Regions from separate parts of the Homo sapiens genome. Here all the other regions are linked to region 2. Evidence: fine-mapped expression QTL. A gene starts in region 2. Each other region holds a variant in brackets. All regions are shown on one strand. Distances are between the middles of the regions. Region 1 overlaps GALNT18 (polypeptide N-acetylgalactosaminyltransferase 18). Region 2 holds the start of GALNT18 (polypeptide N-acetylgalactosaminyltransferase 18). Region 3 overlaps GALNT18 (polypeptide N-acetylgalactosaminyltransferase 18).

The links.
Region 1: its variant is fine-mapped to the expression of GALNT18 in atrial appendage (GTEx, PIP above 0.99).
Region 3: its variant is fine-mapped to the expression of GALNT18 in aorta (GTEx, PIP above 0.99).

What each region holds. Positions count from the first base shown.
Region 1 is chr11:11,403,710-11,411,888 of GRCh38, forward strand. The region is part of intron 3 of GALNT18 (polypeptide N-acetylgalactosaminyltransferase 18); the gene reads right to left. Among named protein-coding and RNA genes, the nearest start is that of CSNK2A3, 55 kb to the left of the region's middle. RefSeq lists enhancers at 1-728, 71-1,270, 693-987, 5,157-5,658. The variant C/T (reference allele first, on the strand shown) is at 3,837.
Region 2 is chr11:11,618,508-11,626,686 of GRCh38, forward strand. It overlaps GALNT18 (polypeptide N-acetylgalactosaminyltransferase 18), which reads right to left and starts at 3,498. Exons shown (of 11, transcript NM_198516.3): 1 at 2,852-3,498. The coding sequence starts at 3,086. RefSeq lists enhancers at 1,379-2,348, 1,801-1,940, 2,011-2,240, 2,981-3,030, 3,241-3,320 and 1 more and silencers at 2,521-2,590, 2,611-2,690, 3,441-3,800.
Region 3 is chr11:11,582,786-11,590,964 of GRCh38, forward strand. All of the region lies in intron 1 of GALNT18 (polypeptide N-acetylgalactosaminyltransferase 18), which reads right to left. Among named protein-coding and RNA genes, the nearest start is that of GALNT18-AS1, 17 kb to the left of the region's middle. The variant A/G (reference allele first, on the strand shown) is at 3,854.

The DNA.
Region 1 (8,179 bases), 210 kb before region 2:
TGCTTGGTAGACAGTAGCCTTGCCTCACCCTCAACTGTGCTGTGAACTCTGCTAACTGCTGTGCCAACTCTCCCCCTGGCCAGGTACAGGAGAGAGTGCTGACGGTCTGTGGGCTGTAGGACACAGTGCTCCGTGATGCTGCAGAAGAGGGTGAGGTTGCTCCTTGTCCTTCAGTTTAATTGCTGTGGATGGTACAGAGGAAACCCAGCCCTGCTGCCAGCAGCTGTAACTGCTCCCCCTTAGATGGTCGGAGGATCCCTGTCCTCAATTCCTGGCCCCTATTCCAGAGGAGTCATGTGCAGTGGGCAGGATCCAGGCAGCCTGGCTCTTCTGAGGGAGCTGTGCCCAGAGATACCAGGCAAATGATGAGCGAATGCCCCGCCACTTGCTGGCAGCAGGAGGAGAGCATTCCCATGTCTCATGGGCTCCCCATGAAACGGGCTTTCTCTTCCGTAAAGGAGTGAGTGTCTAGGGGAGTTCATGCGTGCACGGCATGGAGCCAATTATCGCTGCTCCAGGAAATGGGGATGGCATTGATCACTGAATTCCCCAGGGGAGCCCTGGGCTTCAGTGCCAATGCCTCTGCCTCACCATCCATCTGTGAATAGGGGTAAGACAAGCGGGTATATTAGTTGGATTCAACTTCGGCTGCTTTTATTCTCTCACCCTCCCTAGGGAAAGCAAATGCCCATGAAATTTAGCAAGGCAAGAGGAGCAGGAGCAGGAGCTGAAGCACTCAAAGGCTGATGTAAGCCCTGGCCCGGAAGGAGTTAAGGATCAAACGGCGCCCAGGGAGTGAGCCAAACATTCCATGTTATAGAAGTAAGGAGAGTCACGTGGGAGGAAAATGTCTGAGTGTATCTGAACCACGGCTCCATCCAAACCTAAGCCCTCCGCCCCACCCTGCGTTCTGGAATTCCTCTCAAGCTTTACTGCCCGCAGCCATATTCTCATTCAAATGGGACTCTCTCTGTCTCAACTCTCATTTCAACCTAACTCTGACTTCATCTCAACCTTAACATCCTTTTGACCTCAACCTTCCTCCCGGCTCCAGCCCCGCACAGACCCTGACCATACCCTGGCGACTCCATCAGCTATGATTTCACCACCACCTGGCCTCAACTTGAACATGCCCCAGCCACACCTAACCCAGACCTCAGCAGACCCGGACTCCACTCCCAGCCCATGGCCACCCAGGCCAATCATGTTTCCTAGAGCAGAGCATGAAAGGGGTCCCGCCTGTCATGGGGGAACAGATGAAGCAACAGAGCTGCTTTGCTGTGCTCTGTGTTTCTCCTTCCTATTCTCCCACATAACTGTATGTCAGGTGGCCAGACACCTTCTTGTACCTTAGAGAAGTCAGACTCAGTTACCTGACACTTCTGTGCCTTGAGCCCCGGCCGTGGCAACCTGAGTCAATGGCCTCCACTCTTATTTCTCTCCACTCTGTGCTGGGTAATGGGAGGCAATGTGGGGTGTGGGTGGTCAGGGCAAGGTGGATACAGGAGACAGCTCCTCTTCCCTCCCTTAGTTTTAGATTTCTAGGCTGTGAAGGAGACTCATGAGAAAACCACGGCATCACTGTTAAAAATCATTTGGTTTTATTCCCACTACACTTATATTGTTTTTAAGACAAAATTAAGACCATGGTTATCTCCTCCACAGAGACGAGTTAAAATAATCCTTTTCAAAGTGAATTTGAAGTGGCTAGACTTTGGAAGGAATGAGATGGAGGTGGAAGGGTGTCGCAGATTTTCACTGACTTGGAGGAGGAGGGTACTTGTGCACATGAGTCTGGGGTTCAAGGTCTCTTCTTCCATGGGCTTTTGGATTTAGAGCAAAGAGAACCACATAGAAGCAAGAGGGCTCTTTGTCAGGGGCAAGTCTCAGAACACAGGAAAGGATCACATTTTCTCCTTAGGAAAGTTAGAGAGACGCGCCGAATGCAGACCACAAGTGGGGGCCCTCTGAGGGCGCCTTTTGTCCAATCTGCAAGCTGGGAGATATCTTTTCAATGCCTAGAAGCTATCAGATGGAAGAGAGCAAGTTCACGTTTCCTGAGAGTGAGAAAAGTCAAGATTACTCATGCAGCGATGGGTAAGAGTTCTATGTGGCAAGGAGGACATATGGGTGTGTGATCCTTCCATGCTATGCCTATATTCTGCATGTCTTTCTTGCTGCAGGCAGCCTTACTGCTGCACTAGTCCTAATTTGATTTTTAGCACCTTCAACATGGTCCTCTACAACAAGCAAGGTGTCGGCAGTCCTGCTGGACCAGAAGCCTCACATCTCATCTCACGGAGGTTCATAGCAGAGAGATCGGAGAGTCCCAAACAGCTACATGAGGATAAACATTCCCCCACAGTGTATCTCCCTATTGTGATTTTCTCCTTGTGAACTGTGTAACTTATATCATCATCTTAATAAAAATATATCTGTGAGAGCAATTGTATGTCATTGAATTTTAAAATAATAGCCATATTTTCCAAGCACCTACTATGGGCTAAGCATATAGCCTGGGTTAGTGGCTGCCAGGGCTGTTGTAGACAACCCTCCTTTGGTAGGTAGGAGGATAATCATCATAATGTCTGCAGTTTCTACAAGATAAGAGTCTGTTGTAATGACTCAGCTCAGCTGTTTATTGTACCTTTTCTGGTTTTCCACCTTGGTATCTGGTGACAACTATCAAATTACAGTTAAAGGTTGAAATATTCTGTCTCCATAGGGCTAACTTTTTATACTAAATGAACTGAAAGCTGGTAAGTATCACAAAACGCTGATATTTCCAGCCCCCTGTCCATCTCCAAAGTCGCTTGCAGAAATGGTTCGACATTTATGTACTATTTCAGCCATGTTGAAAGGAAGGGATGGTTCCCAGTTGCCATTGCAGTACAATAAAGGCAAAGTTGAACACCAGGGACCCAGAGGGTTAAAATGCCATACAAGTCGGGGCAGTATACCAAAATAATTTCAAAATGTGGCCAAAGCCATATTCTGGAATCACAGTCATCAAAACAAATATGATAATCAGAATACATGGGAGATGCCTGAGATAAAAGCCAGCAGAACAGAAAGGACATGGGAATTATCAAAGTCAAATATAGTCCAGGGTCATGTCCTTGGCCAGTGGATGTTCCCATCCCCGCCCTTTTGGAAGAAAGCCCAAGGCCTTGCCCCATAGGTGTGGGTCTTCAGGTTCTTTGCAAGAGGGTGAGGCCAGGAGGAATATTATCCCTGGAGGGTTTGCACTGAGGTGAGGGTCTCGGGGCCAGGTTGGACCAGGAGGAGGCCTTCCTTAGGACAGCTTAGAATAGCCTAAGTGGAGAAAGAACCTACTCAGTTCAGGGAGGAAGCAAGCTCATTGCCAAAGTACTGAGCCTAATGGATTTAAACCAGCAGATTGCCAAGCCCAGGACTTGGGAACAAGCTGGGATTTTACACGTCATAGGCAGAGACAATGTGTTCAGGCCAAGGCCGTAAAGGGGAGGAGTGCCTGAGGATGGCTGTGGATGGCAGGGGCTGGTTTTAAAGGTTGGCGTGTCCAGCTGACAGTCATCCTTCTTTGCAATCGTGTGGCTTTCTGACAGACCAGGCAAAAGGCTGGTGCTGAATCGCTGAAAGCACCCTCCAATCAGATTAGCAAACATTCCCTTGAGGAAACAGACCAGGCCACTTCTGCAATGAAGAGGCAATTAGGGAAGCTGCCTTCCCCTGAGAGAGCCACCACCGCTGAGACACAGCCTGTGCCACTTCAGCACACACGTCTCTGTTCTGCAGAGCCAGAGATAAATAGCAAAGGCCACTGGGCTTCAGCCCCATTTATTATTATTCAGAAA[C/T]AGCACTGCGGAGTGTTCTCAAAGTCAGCTGCATGATGTAGCCAGCCAATGCTGCCAGATGATTTAGGGGACAGGAGAGGAGATATTCCCAGTAACCGTGTTATCCCAGACAGTCAGGAGGCACTGCAGGACAAGGGAGCTGCAAAACTTTATTTGGCCACTGAACTTAATAAACCTAAAAGGAGGGCAAAGGAGAAGAGGGAGCATGGCCAAACAAAGGTTTGGAAAGCTAAAGGAAAAGGGACCAGATCCCCTGGGATTACGAGCAGCAGGAGTAAAGAGCGGCAAGCCATGGCTGCTCCACAGAAGAGAGGGAGGGAGGCCAGGGCAGAGCTCCCAGCTGCCTGTTGGATGCACCGAGTGGAGGCCCCACCCGCAGTCATTCACTCCTTGAAGCAGTGTGTCCTGAGCGCCCTATAAGAAACATTGTGTCTAAGATGTAGCCCTCTCCCTGAGGAGTTTACAATAGAGCTGCCCAGAGAGAGAAATTATACAAAACAGTAATCAGAAAACCATACATTAAAAAGTATATACTACTGGCCAGGCGTGGTGGCTCACGCCTATAATCCAAGCACTTTGGAAGGCCAAGGCAGGCGGATCACTTGAGGTCAGGAGTTTGAACCAGCCTGGTCAACTCGGTGAAACTCCATTTCTACTAATAAATACAAAAATTAGCCGGGTTTGGGGTCGGGCGCCTGTACAATCCCAGCTACTTGGGAGGCTGAGGCCGGAAAATTGCTTGCCGGGAGGCAGAGGCTGCAGTGAGCCAAGATCGTGGCACAGCACTCCAGCCTGAGTGACAGAGCAAGACTTCATCTCAAAAAAAAAAAAAAAAAAAAAAAAAAGGAATATACCGCCATGTGGCCTAGGGGAATGTTCCTCTCAATGAACAGATCAGAGAGCACCCAAGATTTATGCAGAGAAGACTCTGGAAGAAGGTGAGTCGGGCAGAGGAGGCATATGCACACCAAGTCGCATTCCTGCCTTCCAAGAGTCGCCGTCTCTTTGGGGTCACCTGTTGTGACTCCTACTCTCCCACTTAAACAAATGTTTCTTATATAAAGGAAAAGAGGCTGCCCCCTCAGTCTCTGTGGGGAACTGGCAAGGCACCCACACCTGCATCGTAGGCAGGAGGGAAGGTCTATTTTTGCTAGGACCCAGTGCTGATCTGACATGCTAACAGCCCCTACTGGGCCCAAGTCAGTTTCCATGGCGTCTGGAGCCTCCACCCTCACCCCTGACCATAAGTTCCTTGAAGACACAGGATGAGTATATATGGCACAGGGCCAGGGTCAGAGCAGTGCTCTGCAAAGGAACCACTTGATTTGGGTCAGTGAAAAACTACATTCCTAGGCTGTTCTCAAGGCTGACACGTGAGCCCAGATGATCAGGCTCCAAAAGGCAAAACAGCAGCAACCCACAGACACATATGTGCGTCCTAATCACCAACTCCTCCAACTTTGACGTGGTGGTGAGGCATTGAGGTGTCACGATGTATTTTTCAAGGGAATGTGTCTTTAATTAAAAACAGCCCTGGTACCACAGGCTAGAGGTGAAACCAGCATTTCCTTCCAAATGCTACCAACAGATGCCACTCCCTGCTGAGGCGTGGGAGGCTGGTGGCTGGTGGCCTTCTGCCCACCTGCTTCTAGCTACTGGCTCATGGGGGCAGCCAGGATGCTCTTCTCCCCAGCTCCCTGCTCAGGGTCAGCAGCTCAAATCCTGGGAAGGAAACTCAGTCAGTGTCTGGGTTCCTAGTGCGTGAACTCCCTAAAGGCAGTCTGTATCCCTGTCCTCCCACAGGGCAGGCCCAGCAGGTCCCAGAATCAAAGCCGCCTCTGCTCTCTGCACAGTCTGGTCTGGCTAAAGGGCAAGGCCTGGAGAGAGTTTGGGACTCCACCCGGCCACAGTCCTGGGACTCGTCAGATCTCTATCTTCACCACAAGCCAGCCTTCCTGTGCTCAGCCAGGTCCTCTAGGGGACCCCGGTTCCCCAAAGTGAAGCCCCATGATACATCTGTACCCAGATAACTCCCCGTATCCTCTCTGCCCACCCCCACCCCAGCTCCATGCTCTCCCCAGTCACTAGAGGCAGCTCCATGCAGGAATCTCTGATCTCAGCCCTTTCTAAAGACAGTCATTGTGCCCTGCATTTTATTCAATGTTGTCCTTGGTTCTAGCTTTGTCCCCAAATTACTATGTGAGTTGGAACGGGGAACTAATAAGGGGACTGGACCAAGTCCTGAGTCCCCTCTGCTATGTGAGTCTCAGGTCTTCTTTCCTCTGTGGGCTGACTTCTGTCTGTCTTGTCTGAGGTCACCTCTATCCCTGCTATCTATGTAAACAAAGATTAATACACAGTGACAGGTCCATAGCTAAACCTTAAACTCCATTGGAGCAACTAGAAGTTAACTCAAAGCTCCCTGCACTACCAGGGTTACGCCCTGCAGCACTATCAGCCAAGACAACAGCATGGGCTGGGCACCCTCCGCCTCTCCCCACCCTTCTTTGTCTCTCTGGACGGGGCTCCCTGGCCCTCCCACAGGGGAGGATCAGAGACAGTGGGAAACTCAGAGAGAGGGTGTTTAATCTCCCAGCCTCTCCCTGTCAAGGACTCCCTGTGCTGGCTCCTGTTTCCCTGTGTCCTCTCTCCCTTCAGGCCTGGAGTAGGAGGGATTCCTGCTGTTTCTAGCCCCAGGGTCTTGTGCTGTCCCTCCTGGCAGCTTCCTTGCATCCTGCTCACACCTCTACACTCATCTCTTGATGAAACTGCTCAAATTACCCACTTTGAGAGTGCCACCTGCTCCTTGCCAGCACCCTGCCATCAGATCCTGCGGTCGGGGGATTGAAGATTGTGTGGAATATTGGGGGGAAGGGAAGTGAGTTCAGAAGCAAACCTAGGAAAAGCCCTAACACATTTTTATGTTCATTATACTCAAATAATAAAGACAGCAAATGAATTAAAGGGCACATCGGTGGTATTTTTACATGTCTTAAATGAGCAATCAGGGGCACTGTATAATTAATTTCCATTTACCATCCTTTGCTTGCTAAAACTTTCTCAAGATTTCTCACCCCTGCAGTTTTCAATGACACACCTGAAAGTCTGCTTTGCTTTGCTGCAGATAATATGCACACTAAGAGGCATTTTCCCCTGGGTCTGGAATTTTAGTTGAACGATGGCTGTCTAATTTTATGGCTCAGAACTGGTGGCTCCTGTCTCCTGTCTTACTGCGTCTCCAGAAATGCAGCAGCCCTTGGTGCTTCAAGTGAAAAGGCCTGGGTGACCCTTACTTAACCCAAGCTGTTAGCTGTCACTGAGACAACATCTCTCAAGCCCTCCCCAGTATACATAGGGAACTATACACTGGCACCCTCCAAGACAGCCTCCTGCTAGGACATGTTAGAGACAGTGGGGTCCTGGCTTGACTCTGTCAATGCCTCCTGGGTGCCACAGCCCTTGGCAGGTTCATAGAACTTAGTGGAGGCTGGGTGCAGTGGCTCATGCCTGTAATCCCAGCACTTTGGGAAGCTGAGGAGGGAGGATCACTTGAGCCCAGAAGTTAGAGATCATCCTGGGCAACACAGCAAGACCCTGTTTCTAAATAAACAAAAATAAATTAGCTGGGTGTGGTGGTGCATGCCTGCAATCCCAGCTACTCGGGAGGTTAAGGTGAGAGGACCACTTGAGCCCAGGAGATCTAGGTTGCAGTGAGCTGTGGTCACCACTGCCTTCCAGCCTGGACAACATTTTTTTCCCGCTGTCTACACACGAGGAGTGATCTGAATATACTAGAACTGAAATCCCCAGGACAGAGGGCAAGGTTTGCAGAAATAAGCCCTTGCTTATTATAAGCCTTGAATTTCATGAAAGACATGTTCTCCTGCTTCTTTTAGGCTCCCACAGAATCTAGTACAGCTCTGGGCTCCACGGGAGCTCAATGCATCCTGATTGAGATGCTGATACATAGGGTGACCCATCTTCTTGGTCTGCTCAGAACAGTGCCTGTTTTGGCACTGAAAGGCCAACTGGGGCAGACGGCCATCCTTCTACAGCAAATCTCTCACCTGCTCAGCCTGGAACTGCTCACATTATCTTGGCATGGGACAATATTAGAGATGCTCTCTCAAGGTGGAGCATGAGATGGAGATTCCTGATTCTTAAATAAACACTTTGCCGAGGAAGGGCCCTTGAGGAATCCTGGCCAGCAAGTGAGGGAAGCAAGTCAGGGCAGGGGAAGAGGCTGAGCAAACAGCTGCACCATTCAAGTCTAGCCTCGCTCTGACCCCACAGGGAGCCCTGGGGCATAAAGCGCATCTCAGAGTTGTCCCATCCGAGGCAAG
Region 2 (8,179 bases):
CCTCAGCCATCCTCTGACACCCACTTCCACCACTGTCAACAGACTCCAAGGGACCCTGGGGCCCTCCTGGGAGACAGTTTAGTACGTGGGTAAGAACTTAGACTTCTGAAGCCACACTAGCTGAGCTTACATCCCTATACTATCATATACCAGTGTGTGACCCTGGACAAATCATATACCCTCTCCCTGCCTCAGTTTCCATATCTGTAAAATGGAGCAAATATTACCTACTTCATAAGGTTGTGAAGATTAAATAAGTCAATATATGTAAAGTGTTTAGAATAGGGCCTGACATATCCTAGGTGCTATGTTATTTTAGCTCTTATTATTATTACCGCTTATTCCCTCCAGTTCAGCAAAGTAAACTGGATTGTTCAAAGGGCTATGCTGACTAGAGGGAACTTGACAGTGGGTTACACATAAACAGCTTGTACCATCAAGCACAAGAGCTTGATCTTATTGTCCTTTACCACCCTCTGCCTTCAGAGAGCTGCACTTGACCAGCCCCAAATTTTATAGGCCCTTTACCTCTGTTTCCTAAATCCCAGCTCAGGATGGCCCCAGCATGGCAAAGGGAACTGTTGGTCATTGCTACACCATCATGGCACAGCCAACCTGGTAACCTCTGCCCCTGCCTGCCTCATTTCCAGTCTTTCCAAGTCACTGACCCTTCCCTACCTTCCTATAGGTGGCAGCTTTGGCCCTCTGTCGAGATTGTGGTTATTTCTGAATACCCACAGGGGTCATTGCACGTGTACAAGTGGAACAACACGTGTTTTAGGGACCCTGTCTCCTATTTTTTTAACCTATCTTCTCCAATTTTTCAGGTATAGATTTGAAAGTGCTGAACAACACATAGTTATAAAGTTTCCGGGGAGAAAAATCACAATGCTTCCTTTCAACTTCAACATCATGCTTTTCCATGTGGAACCTTAGAAATCATGTGACATGGTCCACATTCCACATGACTGGCACCCACTCCGTTACAGGCTCAGGGGTTAATGGCATCCCCTGAAAGCATCCCCAAAGCAGTACCTTGCTCACCTCCTGCCTGACCAGAAAGAAAAGCACAAGAGAATCATTTTCCAGGAACACACACACACACAGAATCTGTGAATGAAAATCTCAAAATCTGTCGGCAAACTAGAAATGTCAAAGTAAGGCATGGCTTTGTGTCTCCTGGGGAACATTCTGAATCACCCTGGGGGAAACACTGTACTTCTATTGCTGATTAATAGTCAATCAAGACCTATGGGATGGAAAAGGACACGTAAGAAATAACAGCAACTGGCACCCACAGATAGGTAAATTGGTTTTCAAGCCCAGTGCCAGGTTGAGAGGCAGAGGCAGGTCTGAAGAAGAAGCTGTCAATGTCCCTCTTTTCTGGGAAGGTGCCGAAGCCATGGGCTTGTTTTGAAGTCATTAGTCAGGAAGCACTATGGATGTGGATGCCTCTCCTGCACTCACCTGAACCTCCCTGAACCTTCCCCTCCTGGAAAGGAACTATTCTGGACACCTGGGGAAACACCAAATTCAGACGGAGGAGCCATCTCTACTCTGGCAAGAGCAGCAGGTGCAAGGATTGGAATTCAGACATCCACGTGTAAACAAAAGGGAGTGCTCCTGGCGGGGGGGTGGGGGGTAAGCCTTCAGTTCAATTCGATTTTGCCAAGGTCTGCCATGCACTGGCCCCTGAGCCTGGTGGGCCTGCTAGGTTTACAGGGGAACCAAGCTCGGCCCTGCCCTTAAGAAGCTCACACACCTGGAAGAAAGCAGGGGGCGCGGGGAGGGGAGGAAGTGTGGACGTGAGCGCGCGCGCGCGCGCGTGTGTGTGTGTGTGTGCACACCCGGCACCAGTGCTCCTGGCGCCCGGAACTCCATTCCCTCCCATGACAGCTCATTGACCAGGTCGCCTCGGGAGAGCGCCCTGCAACCCCCACCCTCCCTTTGGACCCCCGCGCTGGTCTGGAGCGCACCCAACCAGCGTAACCTTACACTTCAGACCCAACCCAGGTCTGCTCAGCCCCGGCTGCTCCCAGGGCCTGAGAGTGGAGCTACAGTAGGGATCGGCCTTCACCCGGTCCCGGGCGGCTCCGCGGGGAAGGCGCAGCCCAGGGCGTGTTCTTCCAGTCTTGGGCGGAGTCATCACCACAGTGGACAGAGACTCCAGCGCTACTTCCCGGCGTTGACACCTGCTCCTGGAGAGGGTCCTGGACCCGCGGGCTGTGGTGGGGGTAGGGACTGCTATAGGTTCAAGCGGCTTTTCAACCACAGAGGGCTCCTTGCATTCCCTATCGCCTACCAACGGGATCACAGCAAGACTGGGGCTGGGGCTGATACAACGCAATTTTCCTAGCCTCGCTTGTCCGGCAGCCTGCGGGTCTTAACTGCCAATAGTCAGGGCCGCCGCGCGGGCATCTCGCCTGACGCCTACAGTGGCCAAAAAAGCTCGTTTGCCCGCGCGTTCCCTCTTGTACACACACAGACATTCACATGCACACACACTCTGAGCCGGACTTGTGTGCGATCCCGAGAGCCCGCGAGCAACCAGCCCAGAGTCACACGCACATTTGGACACGTGCGCAGCGCGCCCCCATACCGCCAGCTAGCTGCACACATCCGCTCGTGCAGCCCTGCGCACACACGTGTGCCCCGGGGAAGAGCGCACGGCCGCAGACAGAAGGTCCCGAACGCAGGCAGGAGCTCACACGCAGGCCCCACGACTACCACGCATCTGCGGCCCCAGAGCCCCGCCGTGGCTGAGTTGATGCGCACCAGCCCCAGCGCACCCCGCGCCGCGCGGGGCACTCCCGGGCCTCATGGGCGACCCAAGTTTCCGGGGCGCCCGTACCTTGAATGTGCTGCTTGATGACATTCTCCAGGTGGTCCAGCCGCTCAATAATCTTCAGAGTGTCCCCTTTGTCTTCCTCCAGCTTCTTGTCGGGCGCCGGCTCCTGCCCCCGCACATACACGCTGGCGATGTAGTTGGTGACCCAGCCCACGTAGAGCAGGCAGATGATGTTAGTCATGCCGCTCAGGATCACGCAAGTGGACACCAAAGTTTTGGTCTTCCTGGTGCACACCATTCTGGGCTCCTTCCTCCATATAGAGCTCCCGGGGGCCCTTCCTTGTCGTGCGCCCCGAACTCCCCCGCGCTCGCACCCCGTAGCACGTCCGGAGCCGCTGGGCACCTCAGCACCTGAGTCCCGAGGTTCTCCAAAGCCCGGTCCGCTGCCGGTGTAGCCGCCGTGCCCAAGTTTGCAGCTCCTGCCGCTGGCCACCCGGAGAGACCTTGACAAAGGAAACCAGGTGGATTTTTTTCCAAATTAAAAATCCCTGAACCCTTCCTAGAGGGGTCACGGGTAGCCGGCAGCCGCGCGTCCAGATGTGTACGTCTGGGAAACTTTGCCACTGCCTGTGTCGGCGGCCACGCCGCTTCCCATCGCCAGCGCCGGCTGCCTTGGCGGTCCGACCGGCCCGCGCTGCTAGGAGAACAGCGGCAGCGGCAGCGGCGGCGGGGAGAGCCGCGAAGCAGAGCGGCCCGGCCCCCTCCGAGCGACAAGCGCTGCCACCAATCGCGCTCCGGCTCGGGAGAGGGGCCGGTGCTGAGCGGCAGCGGACCAACGGGGAGGGAGCGGGGGGCGGAGTCCAGCTCCCAGGCCCCACCTGCTGGCCGCCCCTGGCTCCCGCCCCCAGGGACGCGCCCGGGCCTCCACCCGCGCCTGCACAGGCTGCCCCAGACCTGAAGCTCCCGGAGAGGGCGCGCTGCCAGTCCCAGCCCTTAGGTCGGCAGCTTCCTCCGTTAGGGGAATTCCATCTCTTGCTCTTGGGCAGGAATCTCCTGGTTTTGTGGAGGGGGTGGGGGGTTCGCACGGGTCAGCTTCTTTCATCCGCCCGGGGCTTCTCGCATTGGTGCCACCAGTCGACTCCTGGAATCTTTTCTTGGTTGCCAGGACGCTGAGAAGCCAAGGAAGTGCCAGCCCCAGCGGCATCCACTCCTTCCTTGGCCTCACTTGGGCCTCCACCCTGCCCTCTGCCCTTCAGCCACCGGCCTCCTGAGTGTGTCCAGACCTGGCCCTAAACCTGGCTGAAAGGAGCCAACCCTCCGGCAACCTCCCAGAAGCAACATTGGTGACCTATTAGATGACTCTCTCGACCACTTCTTCCCCCCCCCCACCCCCCACCCCCCACCCCCACCGCCTGCCCCAATTTTTGCCCCTATCTAGGTTTTTCTTTAAGTCTGTACAGCTCCCAGGACATGGATGTGTCCTTTAAGCCCAGTTTTCATTTATGTGGAACCAGGGTCATCCAGTGCATAAAGAAACCCTGCAAGGAAGTGCCGCTGAGGGGAACTGAGGTCTGTGAACTGTAAAGCCCTTCTACATGTTGTTTATGATTGCTATCATAGAGGGCGGTGGGAGAGACCTGTGACTGAGCACAGGAGGAGGCCAGACGCAGACAGTGATACTGCTGTGTTTGTTCTTACTGCCAATGTTTACTCATATTATCCTCTTCTGCTGAACACCCCGTTCTCAGCACCTGAACGGAATTCCTTTAAACAAAGACTTTTTACAACATAGATTTCCTGCCTCTTCTCCATCTCTGAGTTGCTTTATTTTTTTGGCCTAAGCCAGGGAGGCAGCCTGCTGCATGCCCACTTTGTTGTGTGCCAGCCTTCCAACCAGCCACAGAAATACTCAGGGCAGCTCCATCCTGGGATATCTTCTGGATTCAAATGACTGGCCCCACAAGAGAGGGAGAGCACAAAACCAAAGAAAGGGCACTTTATGGCCCCATCAGCCAAGGGCCCTTCTACCAATGCTTTGTTTACAAAACCTCCCCAAAGATGCTATGAAAACAGATACCAACTAGGGACCCGGGAAGATTTCCCTTGATCCATAGCTGGAAGAGAGAACAGTGGGTGTGGGTTGGCGTGGGCTGGGGTATAGAAGGGGGAGAAGAATCGTGTGTATGGTATGTAGGAGATACATACATGAGAGGAGAGAATGTACACAATTTCTGAAAAAATCAAGGTAGAGAAATCTGCCTCCAGGAGGGAGTAAAACTTGTCTCTCCCTTTTTTCTCTTCCAGAGGTATAATCCAGCTCACAAATAAAGGATCTGAACTTTCTTCTGGTTGGACAGACTTACAAGCAATGCCCTTGAGTACAGGCTAAGGTGTAATCTTTCCTTCTGTTCTGCCCCCTCTCCCAGGAGGAGCCCTGGAAGTTCAGCCCTTCTTGGGATCTTCCTAAACCACCACAGGACTAGAAAGAGAAGGCAATACTCATTCTTTTCACATTCTTAATGGAAAAAAATTAAATCCCAAGTTTAAAAAAATGAGGGTCAAGAAGAAAACAAAGTGAATTGTGTGATCTTAAATTTTGTACAGCTGATCCTCTAAGATAATGTGTAACTGTAGAGGGGATGAATACAACAAAAGAAGAATGCTGAACAGGTTCTCCTCTCTGAAAAGTCACAGGTTTGAGTTGACCTGTTCAAAGAATTTTCTCTGGAGGTGCAGGCAGACTCCAGGGTTCTAATCCCAGATCCACCATGTATTAGTTATGAGAGCCTGGACACATTTCAAAAAGTCAGTAGGGCTCAATTTCTCCCATGTATCAAATGTAGGTAGACAATACCTTACTGAGGACAGGCTGTGAAAATTAACTGAGAGAATGTTCCAGAAAGGGCTTTAATTAGTGCAGGACACATAGTGAGTGGTTAGGATCATGTGAGTTTCCTTCCAGATATGGTCACTCCCTTTCCAGGCCAGAGCTCAGCTCCGTGACCTCCATCCTGCTGTTTAGCAATACTTGGTTTCTCTACCTACCAGTATCAGCCCTCTCTCCCCTAATGGAAGCTAACAGGAACTAAAGCTATGAGCACCAAGGGGCTCATCTCATCGTCGCTAGCTGGGCTCCAGCACATTGGCTTTCTATTCATAATGTCTGTCTTCACCATCAGTAGTACAATGATCTGCATAGGTTGATAAAATATTCAAAATGAAAGGCTGGTTTCTTCAAGGTACTGGTCACCCCCAGTACCTTCAACTTTTCCACTCAAGACCCCTAATCCCTTGGTTGCAAACAAAGGAAGTGGGAGGGGGCATAAAGGCTTTGCTCACAAAGATTTTGCAGTCACAGGTCAGAAAAAAGTCTCTTTGCAAGCTCCCTCGTAAACAATACCTGGGTAGCAATTCATACCTTTAGTCCTGAATTCAGTTACCATACATCCAATCCTACAAGTAATGGTTGTGCTCCTGAGGTTTTGTGTAAATGACCAGTTGTCCTAGCCTCTGCCCATTTTGCTCCAGATAGGTAGATCCAGTCTGAGTTTCATTGTGTCAATACGGGCCTCTTTTCTGAGCTCAGGAAGCTGCTAAAAATCATCCTTGGATTGTAAGGATGTTTCTGATTCCCAAGTTCGGTCATTTATCTAACTCCTAAGTGTTTCCTCTCCTTTACTTTAAATAAATCCTGCCTCCTGCTGGGGATCATTGTGAGGAGTTAATCAGATAATAGGTGTAAGCAGGCCTAGCAGAGACTCCAGTACAACGTAGTTCTTCAAACTTATCCTGAGAGTTAGAATCTAGGGTCTCCTTTAACTCCTGCCACAAGAGGAGAGTGAGTGCCTTGAGGCATATACAATGGGGCTGAAGATTCTTGATAAAGCTTATCTACTACAGCCTCTGGATTTCACCCATCTTTTACATTGGGTAGGCAGCTCTTCTCTTGATGTGACTGAGGGCGAGCTGAATAGGACTTCCTACGCATAAGTACCACCACACTGTGACTCCCCCAACACTAAGCCTTCATTCAAAATACCTTTGATACTAGAGTTAGAGAAGGCCAGTCACTAATGGAATTCAGCCACCAACTGATTACATTCTGCATAGGGTACCCTGACCTGAGGTTTAAAGACGAACAGTGAACCAGTCTTGGCCAATGGCCATTCACTCTTCAGAGAGGGTTGTCAGTGGTCATCTGTACCTTCCAGATGGCAGCACCATGCAAAGCCTTGGGGCCAGAGTGTCAGGATTTGGGGGTGCTAAAGGATAAAAACAGGCCTGGATCATGGAAAGCCTCAATCCCTGTGCTGGCTGCATGGGAATTGGGGTTGCCAGGTTCCTAGGAGAACAGGGATTGTTGGCACTTCCAGCAAGGATGGATGTATGGTTCAGAGACAAAAGCTACAGAGGAAAAGTAGGGCCAAGATTGGATTTTGCCAAGCTACAGGTCTGAGATATCATTAACAAAAAAGGCACACTTCTTGGGGAGGGATGGTAAATGAAGAGAGAAACGTTTGTTTAGTGCCTACGTTGTACCAGGCCTAGTGTTTTTCATGTTCTCTCTTGAGCACAGATTACGGAGCCAGACAGCTGGGTTCATATCTCAGTTCTGCCGTTTATTAGCAGTATGATCTTGGGAAAATTCCTTAACCACACTGTGCCTCAGTTTATTCATCTGTACATGGAGATAATACTGATACTGCTTACCTCACGGAGAAGTTGTGAGAATTCAATGAATTAATGTGTACAAAGCACACTAAAGGCACTACATGTATTGGCTATTGTCATTATTGCTGTCTCTGAGCACCAGAGTATCTAACATGCAAATGAATGGAGGGAAGACAAGCCACCCAGAGGGCACTTTCCTCTAACTAGGGGCAAAGGGTCCTCTTGCTCCTCTTCTGTCACCCTATTTAAGGATCCAAAACAACTCCTAGCTGAGTTACAGGGCAAACCCTGGCCGGAATCCAGCAACAAGACCCATCTAACCCTCTGTCCATTGATTCATCCACTAAATATTTTCTGAGTGCCTGCTCTGTGCTAGACCCAAAGCTGGGTACTGGCAATACAGAGGTGACTCACAGACCCTCATCCCTGCCCTCAAAGAGATCACTGTTGAATGGATGAGGCCAAAAAATAAACAACCATAATACAGTAGGATAAGCTCTTTTCTGAGATATTCTATTAATATGAGAAAGAAGGCACAAAAAGTCAAGGGAGGTACCAAATTCCTCCCTAGCAAGTGGTTATGCAACTTCTGAACAGCTTCACTTCCATTCAGTCACTGGACAATGCTGCTGGGTAAAAATTTCTTCTTTAGACCCGGAGGAAAATATTTGCAAGATAGTTAACAGACCAAAGATTGAAAACCAAAATATATAAAGAATT
Region 3 (8,179 bases), 36 kb before region 2:
GGGCTTTAGGAAGTAAGCATTTTTAAAAGATTACTCTAGTTGTTGAGTGAAGAACGGACCCACATCAGCTGCACCTCTTTCTCCAACTCCTCACCACAGCCACAGAGCACAGCCACTGCCACACACACCCCACAGAAGTGGTTGTCATGGTCCTGCAGAGAGGAAGATCTAAGATTTCCCTGAACCATCCTATTATCCCCCATGCTATTTTTATATCCCAAAATGAGAGGCATGGGACTCTAAGTCCTGCCAACACTCAACTCAGGAAGGTCGTTCATGTGCTCTTCCATAAAAACCAGGAGGGCCAGCAAAGCCTGGTGCTTTCCAGCTCTTTCCTGAGAAGTTACACTCAATTTGTCCCTTTAATGAGGTTTTTCCACAGCAGCACAGAACCAGTCTCCTGCTGAGTTATTGGTCAGGGAACACAAAGCCAATTCCACCCTGGTCTCCTATTTCTGGCAAGACCATCCTGGGGCTATTTCTCAAAGCAGCTGGTCCTTCTAGATGCTAGCCCTCTGTGTGCACACTTATATCTCATAATGGATGGTGACCTATCAGATGCCTTTGGGTCCTCCAGAGCAGCTGACCAGTGCCAAGTACATAGGAGGAGCTCAATTCATACATTCTGAATGAATGAAGAAATGTAGACTATCTGAATCCATAGGTGAAAATAAAATCCACGGGGTAAAAAGGTTTCTAGCTCTGTTTCTGGCTGGAAAGTGCACGAAAGCTGAGTTTAATCAATAAATAAGAGTTGTAGCTACTAAATTCCTCTCCACCTGGCCCCAGCAAAGGATACATTTACATCTCATTCCCCAAATGTAGGACATCCAAAGACCAGAGGTCCCATGAGACGCCACTTCTTCAAATGCCGACATTTTGAAGAACACACACCAAGATATTTCCAAAGCCCTGACCACATACGTGGTCAGGGAAAATGCTTAAAGCTTCAGCTCCTTTCAGAAAAGCAAAAATCAAACCAGACTTATAGCACTATCGGCCAGTAATGGTTAAGCTCACATGATGTGCAAGGCATTCACTGGGCTAGGAGGGAGAAATAAAGAAATAGCCCTGTCTGCAAGGAGCAGATGATCTCAATATCATTATAAGGCCCAAATAAATGAATTATGGTCTTAGACAAGTCAACGGCTCCCCACAAGATGAAAGCACAAGGTCACACTCAATGAAATAGAGATGAACTGAATTCTTGTGAGGACATAGGAATTCGAAAAGGAATGGCATCATGAGCTGGGCTGGCTGGAGACAGATTTAAGCTTTGAAAACTGTGGTCAAGCAGAAAAGAGATAAGAGGACATACGGAGAGAAGTAAAAAGGGGAAGTAGAAGAAGCGGCCCCTGAGATTCCAGGGAACTTGGTTCCAAATGGTAGGACAAGTGGGCCAGCGGCAATAAAATTAGAGCAAAGTGTCCTTCCAGCAGCTGGGGACAGGAAGCTCGAGGATAGACACTGACCTATGCCAGGAAAGGCCTGGAAGTTATGTCCAGGGAAGAAGAAAAATAAATAAATAACACCTTGCAAACACAAGGGGACAGTTTGTATTTTAAAGTCTTGGAAAAGTAAATCAAAGTAAACAGGAACCTTGGAGCCATCAGGTTACTGTTGGAAAGCTGATGGGAGATGCCGTAAGAGAAATGGGTTCCTATTCTCCAGTGCATTTCAACTGGCCATATTCTCAGCAGTGAATGATGGAGGCAGAGCTCAGAGAAGCACGTCTGAACACGTAAGGACCGAGAGGCGAGTCTTCAGTGAAACACCCACAGAGAGCCGTTTGCCCCTTGAGATTCCTGAGGAGTGTGGAGAGCAAAGAAGCAAACCCAATGAGTCACAGTGTAAATTATTCCTATTAGTCAGTGCTATCTTATAAGCACACATACACATAAAGCACTTCTGCTGCAGACTGAAGTATGAAGGTTGTCTCAAGAGAAAGAGCTTATACAATCGAGGTGGACAATGAACTACGTACTTTTTTCATGAAACACTATTTTCACTTAAAAGAACAACTGATGAACAAATCATAATTATTCATACTTGGGAATTTGGTGAACTTTTCTCAAAGTCTTGTCACTCCAAGGAAAATAAGTGATAATATTTTTCCCCAGTGATAAAATCCAAGCTTTTAAGGAAAATTTATAATTATGGAAAACTTGCCTCCACCACTATGAGCTTGACGGCTTCCCAACACCTAAAGACTTCTGATGATATAAATGGTAATATTAATGGAAGTGATTTTTCACACTGTATAATAAAATATGTCCACATTTAGAAGATCTGCCTAACTCTGTGAGCTTATCCTTTCCAAATGACTAATGTATAATATTACAAAATCATGCTTGGATAAAAGATATAAGCAAAGTACAAGGCAGACCACAGATTTTGATGTAACAGAATATAAAACATTTACTGATGTGGTTTCAGATTTCACTCCAACTTCTAGAAACTTATCACTTGTCCAGTTTGGGTGTAGTATCAAAGAAGAATATCCATAATTATCTGAAAATATTAAAATACTCCTTCTTTTCCCATCTACATATATCTGTGAAGAAAAATCTTTTTTTTTTTTTTTTCCGAGATGGAGTTTTGCTCTTATTGCCCAGGCTGGAGTACAATGGCGTGATCTTGGCTCACCACAGCCTCTGTCTCCCAGGTTCAAACGATTTTCCTGCCTCAGCCTCCGGAGTAGCTGGGATTACAGGCATGCGCCACCACGCCTGGCTAATTTTGCACTTTTTGTAGAGATGGGGTTTCTTCCATGTTGGTCAGGCTGGTCTCGAACTCCCGACCTCAGGTGATCCGCCCACCTTGGCCTCCCAAAGTGCTGGGATTACAGGCATGAGCCACCGCGCCCGGCCGAAAAATCTTTTTCATACTTCAACCAAAACAACATATCACAACAGGCTGAATGCAGAAGTAAATGTGAGACTCCATTTTTCTTCTATCAAACCAGGTATCAAAAAGATTTGTGAAAATAGAAAACAAGGCCACTCTTCTCAATAAGTTTTTTTTTTTTTTTTTTTTTGGCTGTTGCTTTGGAAACTGCAATAGACTGAATGTTTGTGGCCCCCCACCCACACACAAAAGAAGTCACATGCTAAAATCCTAACCCAGGGAGGTGGGGCCTTCGGGAGGTGATTTGGTCATGAGGGTAGAGCCCTCATGGGTGGGATTTGTATCCTTACGAAAGAGAGCCCAGAGAGCTTTCTTATCTCTTCCACCATGTTAGGATGGAACAAGAACGTGGTGGTCTGTGAACCCGGCAGTGGGCCCTTACCAAATGCTGAATCTGCTGGCCCCTTGATCTTGGACTTTCCGGCCTCCAGAACTGTGAAAAATAAATTTCTATTGTTTATAAGCCATGCCATCTAGGGTATTTTATTATAGCAGTCTGAATGGACTAAAACAAATTGTACCAAGAGTCTGTAGTTCTTTTTCACAAAAAGTGTGCTACTTATGTTAATTTATGTAATTGGGTTTATTATTGCCATTGTTAAATAAAATAATTATTTTGAAATTTTCTCAGTTTAAATTTCTATTGTGGCAAATATTAACTGATACAACCTATAGCAACAAAACTCCCTTGGGGTTTTCAATAATTTTTACAAGCATAAAGGAGTCCTAAGACCAAAAAGTTTGAAAACTTCTGGCTTAAACTATAGCTAAAAGATAGGAAATTCTACCTGTTCAGGGCCCAGCATCCATAACTAGCCCCAGTTTCAGCCTCTGTGAAGTGAGATCTTCCCTGTTGACAGGCAGAAACCACCAGGAACCCTTTTGCTTAGGCTGTAGTCAGGACATAGTTGATCTTTTAAAAAAAATAAAACGTTTCAGCATTTAT[A/G]TTTAGCTGGTATGCACTGGTTCCACCATATCAGTTCTTAAAATACTGAAATAGGCCGGGCTTGGTAGCTCATGCCTGTAATCACAGCCCTTTGGGACGCCGAGGCGGGCAGATCACCTGAGGTCAGGAGTTTGAGACCAGCCTGGCCAACATGGTTAAACACCATCTCTACTAAAAACACACACACACACACACAAAAAAAAGCCAGGTGTGGTGGCGGGCGTCTGTAATCCCAGCTACTCAGGAGGCTGAGGCAGGAGAATCACTTGAACCCAGGAGGCGGAGGGTGCAGTGAGCCGAGATCGTGTCAAAGCACTCCAGCCTGGGGAACAAGAGTGAAACCCCATCTCCAAATAAATAAATAAATAAATAAATAAACTCAAATTTCCTCCCATTTTAGAAAAAGCTGCTTTCCCAAGTTACTTGAGAGATGCTTCCAGCACCCATTATCCTGACCCCTCCCCCAGTATCCAAACCTTCCCCAAGAGCCAGCCACAAAACAGTTACTGCCTGGCACAGCAATTTGCTCTAGCACTATATGACTGGTTCTGATTGGACACTGCCAAATGCCACATTAGCTGTTTATATATTTGAATATCAACCTTCACTGGCTCACTTTCTCAGAAATGAGGAAACTTGGAGGCAATTTGAGACTTGGGCTGAAAGGGGAAGCATTCCACAGAGTTGAGCACTGGCTGGAAATGCCATGATTCCCATGTCAGTACGCCACGTATGCTGACCCCATCAGCAAAGCAGGCTTCCCTTCAAGGAATCCGTTACACACCAAATCAGTGAAGACTGCATCCCAGCTTTTCTGCAGGTTGCTAATGAGCAGTGAGCATATCCAAAGCCTCGATCTAGGAGGAAGCACTCTGGAGCTCAGCCTAGGATTTGAATACAGGAGCTTTGCAAGACCATCAGTAGTCAAGCACGGAAAATACCCTACAACAGAAAAGCTGAAGTTGATGTTTTACATGGAATGCCCTCACCAATGCTGTTTCCAAAGTTATATCCTAGAGAAGTAATACCAGTCATCAACATCAAAACCAACCTATAACAAGGAAAATTAACAGGCAACATTTCCCCTTGACTTCCCCTGGTAGGTGATCAAACTTAAAGAAGAGGGAAAAGTCAATGGTTGGTAAAGCCCACCCCATCTCTAGCCCCCACCCTTTCATTTCATGAACCTCTTCTATGGTCCAAAGAATAATAAGAACACAAAATATAGAAATCCGAAAGGAAAGAGAGAGGCAGGGGGAGAAAGGAAGCCTTTCTACTAATTCACTAAGAGTGGCATGTCTCTACCAATAAATTACAAAATAGGCATGCTGTTTCCAGCTTCCACACTTTTATACACACAAGTCCTTCTGCTTGAGGCTCCTAACCCTTTCCCCAACTTTCTGCAGTTGAAATCTACCCCATCTTTCAGTGCTCAGTTCAAATACTTCTTTCTCCATGAAAACTTCCCCAAACCTACACACCCATCTGCTCAGCTGGAAGTGAGCCATACCCCCTTCCTGGTTTCATCCCCACCAACCTTCCCTCACACTTTCTTGTCCTTTTCTTATGGCACTAGTCACTTTTCACCTTGGGAATGGATTACTTCTGTCCATGTCTCCACTCCCCTATTGGACTGTGAGCTTTTTGTAGGCAGAACTACATCTCCCCCTTTGCATGCCTCCAGTCACCTAGCAAAGAATCTGGCATTTAGTGAGTACTGTTTAAATGTCTGTTGACTAAACCAATGGATGCACGGACAAATGGAAAGAAGAAAGGAAGAGTAGGAGGGAGGGAAGGAATAATGTTACACCTTGATTCCTGTGAAGCGAGTCAATTCTGGCCTCTGTCTACTAGTCATGAATTCTCTCCCTAGATCAGACAGGTGCTGGGCTCCACAGTATCCTTTTCTTCCTTATCACTCAGCATGCTAACCAACCTCATCCTCTTCCCAAATCTGGATGAAGACTCAGGGGTGCTGTTAAGCAAGAAGAGGCTTATCCAGGTCAGCTCCAGGCTCAGAGGAAATGTTTAGCTCTGTTTCCTCTATCCATAGAGGAGTACTGCAAACAGGTAATCTGGCTTCACTGTGGATCTCAAACGCCAGCTCCTGCATTTATTGAGAGTGACTTGTGATTTGTACTTTGCCACTCTACCTTTTGATGAGAACAGATGTTATTTGTTTCTAACTCCCAGACATCTGGAACTGAGGAAATTCCCAATACCCAGTTAATTACCATCGAACAAGCAGTGCCCATTAGAACTCTACTAAAAGGGCCTGTTTTTGCCCAGGCCTGATGAAGCAGGGTCAGTTGCATCAGCAAGCAGAGTGACTGAAGTCAAAGCTGGCACAATACACTAAGCCCTATCTTGGGAAAGATTCCATACAAGGAATCCCTATGCATAGAATCACCTTCCCAACTGATGGAAGAAAATAAACTGACTCTGAAACCCAGACAAAAGAGATAATGTGTTTGGACTCTGCTGGTTAGCTCTCTGCCCCTCCCCCTGATGACCCCCATAGGAGTGGAGGGAGAAGCCAGGAAGGAAAGGGGGCTGCGTTAGTTTGCAACTTGAGTCTCCTGCCACAGACCAGTGAGGAAGTGGGGGGAGAAGTGGCTAACTCTAGCATTTTTTCAAGAATAGAAGCACATTTATGAAACCAACAGATCCTTCTTGCTTCTCTGAATAAACAAGATCAAGAGCTGTAAAGAAAAAAACCAAAACAGACAAACAAAAATACAAGCAATCTCCTTTGTCAAAGGTAACAAATGCCCACATTCCAAGAGCATCTTCACATTTTGCCGTATTGCTAAAAATGACTCCAAATATGAATCAAAAGGAAAACACTACACCATGGCTCCCCTTTTGCTGTTCAGCAGTCGTGGGAAACTGTTAGCTCCATACTCATAAGAGCTTCAACCACGAGAGGCATTCAGCAGTTTTAGGGGTTTTTTTTTTTAAGGCCTTTAAACAGCTGATTTGTACAACAAGACTCACAGCCTTGCTGAATGCTAATGACAGCCCAGCCCTCCTGGGGAGAGTGACACAGTTTGTCTATCGCCCCTCACTCCCAAGAGAGCCACTGAGCACCACATAAGCCAGGAGCTTCACAGACCTGATCCTGAGTTGGCTGCTCACAAAAATTCCCAACAACCTACTCTCAAATTTGTAGCCCAGATAGTCCATGGAAGGGAAAGGGAGAGCAGTCACATGTTTTATAGAATTGTTGGTGCCTGGAAAGAGAGTCCACATAGGCAATCACAACACCCACTGCATCCAGAGGTGCAGAACCTGAGCCAGCCATTAAAGGAGTATGAGAGGCCCTGCAAAGAATCCAGATCTGAGGTTACACAGACCTAGGTCCTACTCCTGGCTCTGCCACTTGCTACCTTTGTGACTTTACCTAGGGGTGATATTCAAATATGTAATAACCAATGCAGCATGGTCATGTGGCAGACACTGCTGTGTGTTCACTAAAACCACCTTCCTTTCTTCCAGGGAAACCAGGTAGACTACATTTCCCAGCTTCCCTTGCAGTCAGCGGCTGCTACATGGCTGATTCTGTGAATAAAATGTGGTGGAAATTAGGTGCTCCATGCGAGTCCTGGCTCATGGGCACCTCCATGCTCTTTCCATGTTCTCTCTCCCCGTATCTGCCGATTGCATGCAAGGGGTCACGCAGAAAGCGACAGGGCCCAAGCCTATGTCCTTGGATGGAAGGAAGGCTGCAGGCCCACAAGGAACTTCCACATTGCTTGTTGGGTAAGTGAGGGATATTTTCATTGTACTGGTTAAAGCCACTGGTTTGGAAGTTGACATTAAAATTAACTTTCCTTACTCTACCTATATTAGGCACCAACCAATCAGAAGGACACTGGCTGTTCTGCTGCATCAGTGCAACAGGGATATACTAGTGAGATATCACTCCCAACTTGCTTTTGAATCTGTTTCCTCATTGATAAAATGAGCATGTTACTGTCTGCTCAACAAGGATGCTGTGAAGATTGACTTGAATCTTGTACAGTCACCCACCGCATGACGTTCGCTCAATGACAGAACACATATACAATGGTGGTCCCGTAAGATTACAATGGAGCCCAAAAATTCCTATTGCCTAGTAACATCACAGCCATCCTTATGTCACAGCACAATGCATTCCTCAGGTGTTTGTGGTGATGCTTATGTAAACAAACCTACCGCACTACCGGTCATATAAAAGTATAGAACATACAATTATGTACAGTACATAATCATTGATAATGATGATCAACAACTATGTTACTGGTTTATGTATTTACTATATTATATTTTTACTATTATTTTAGA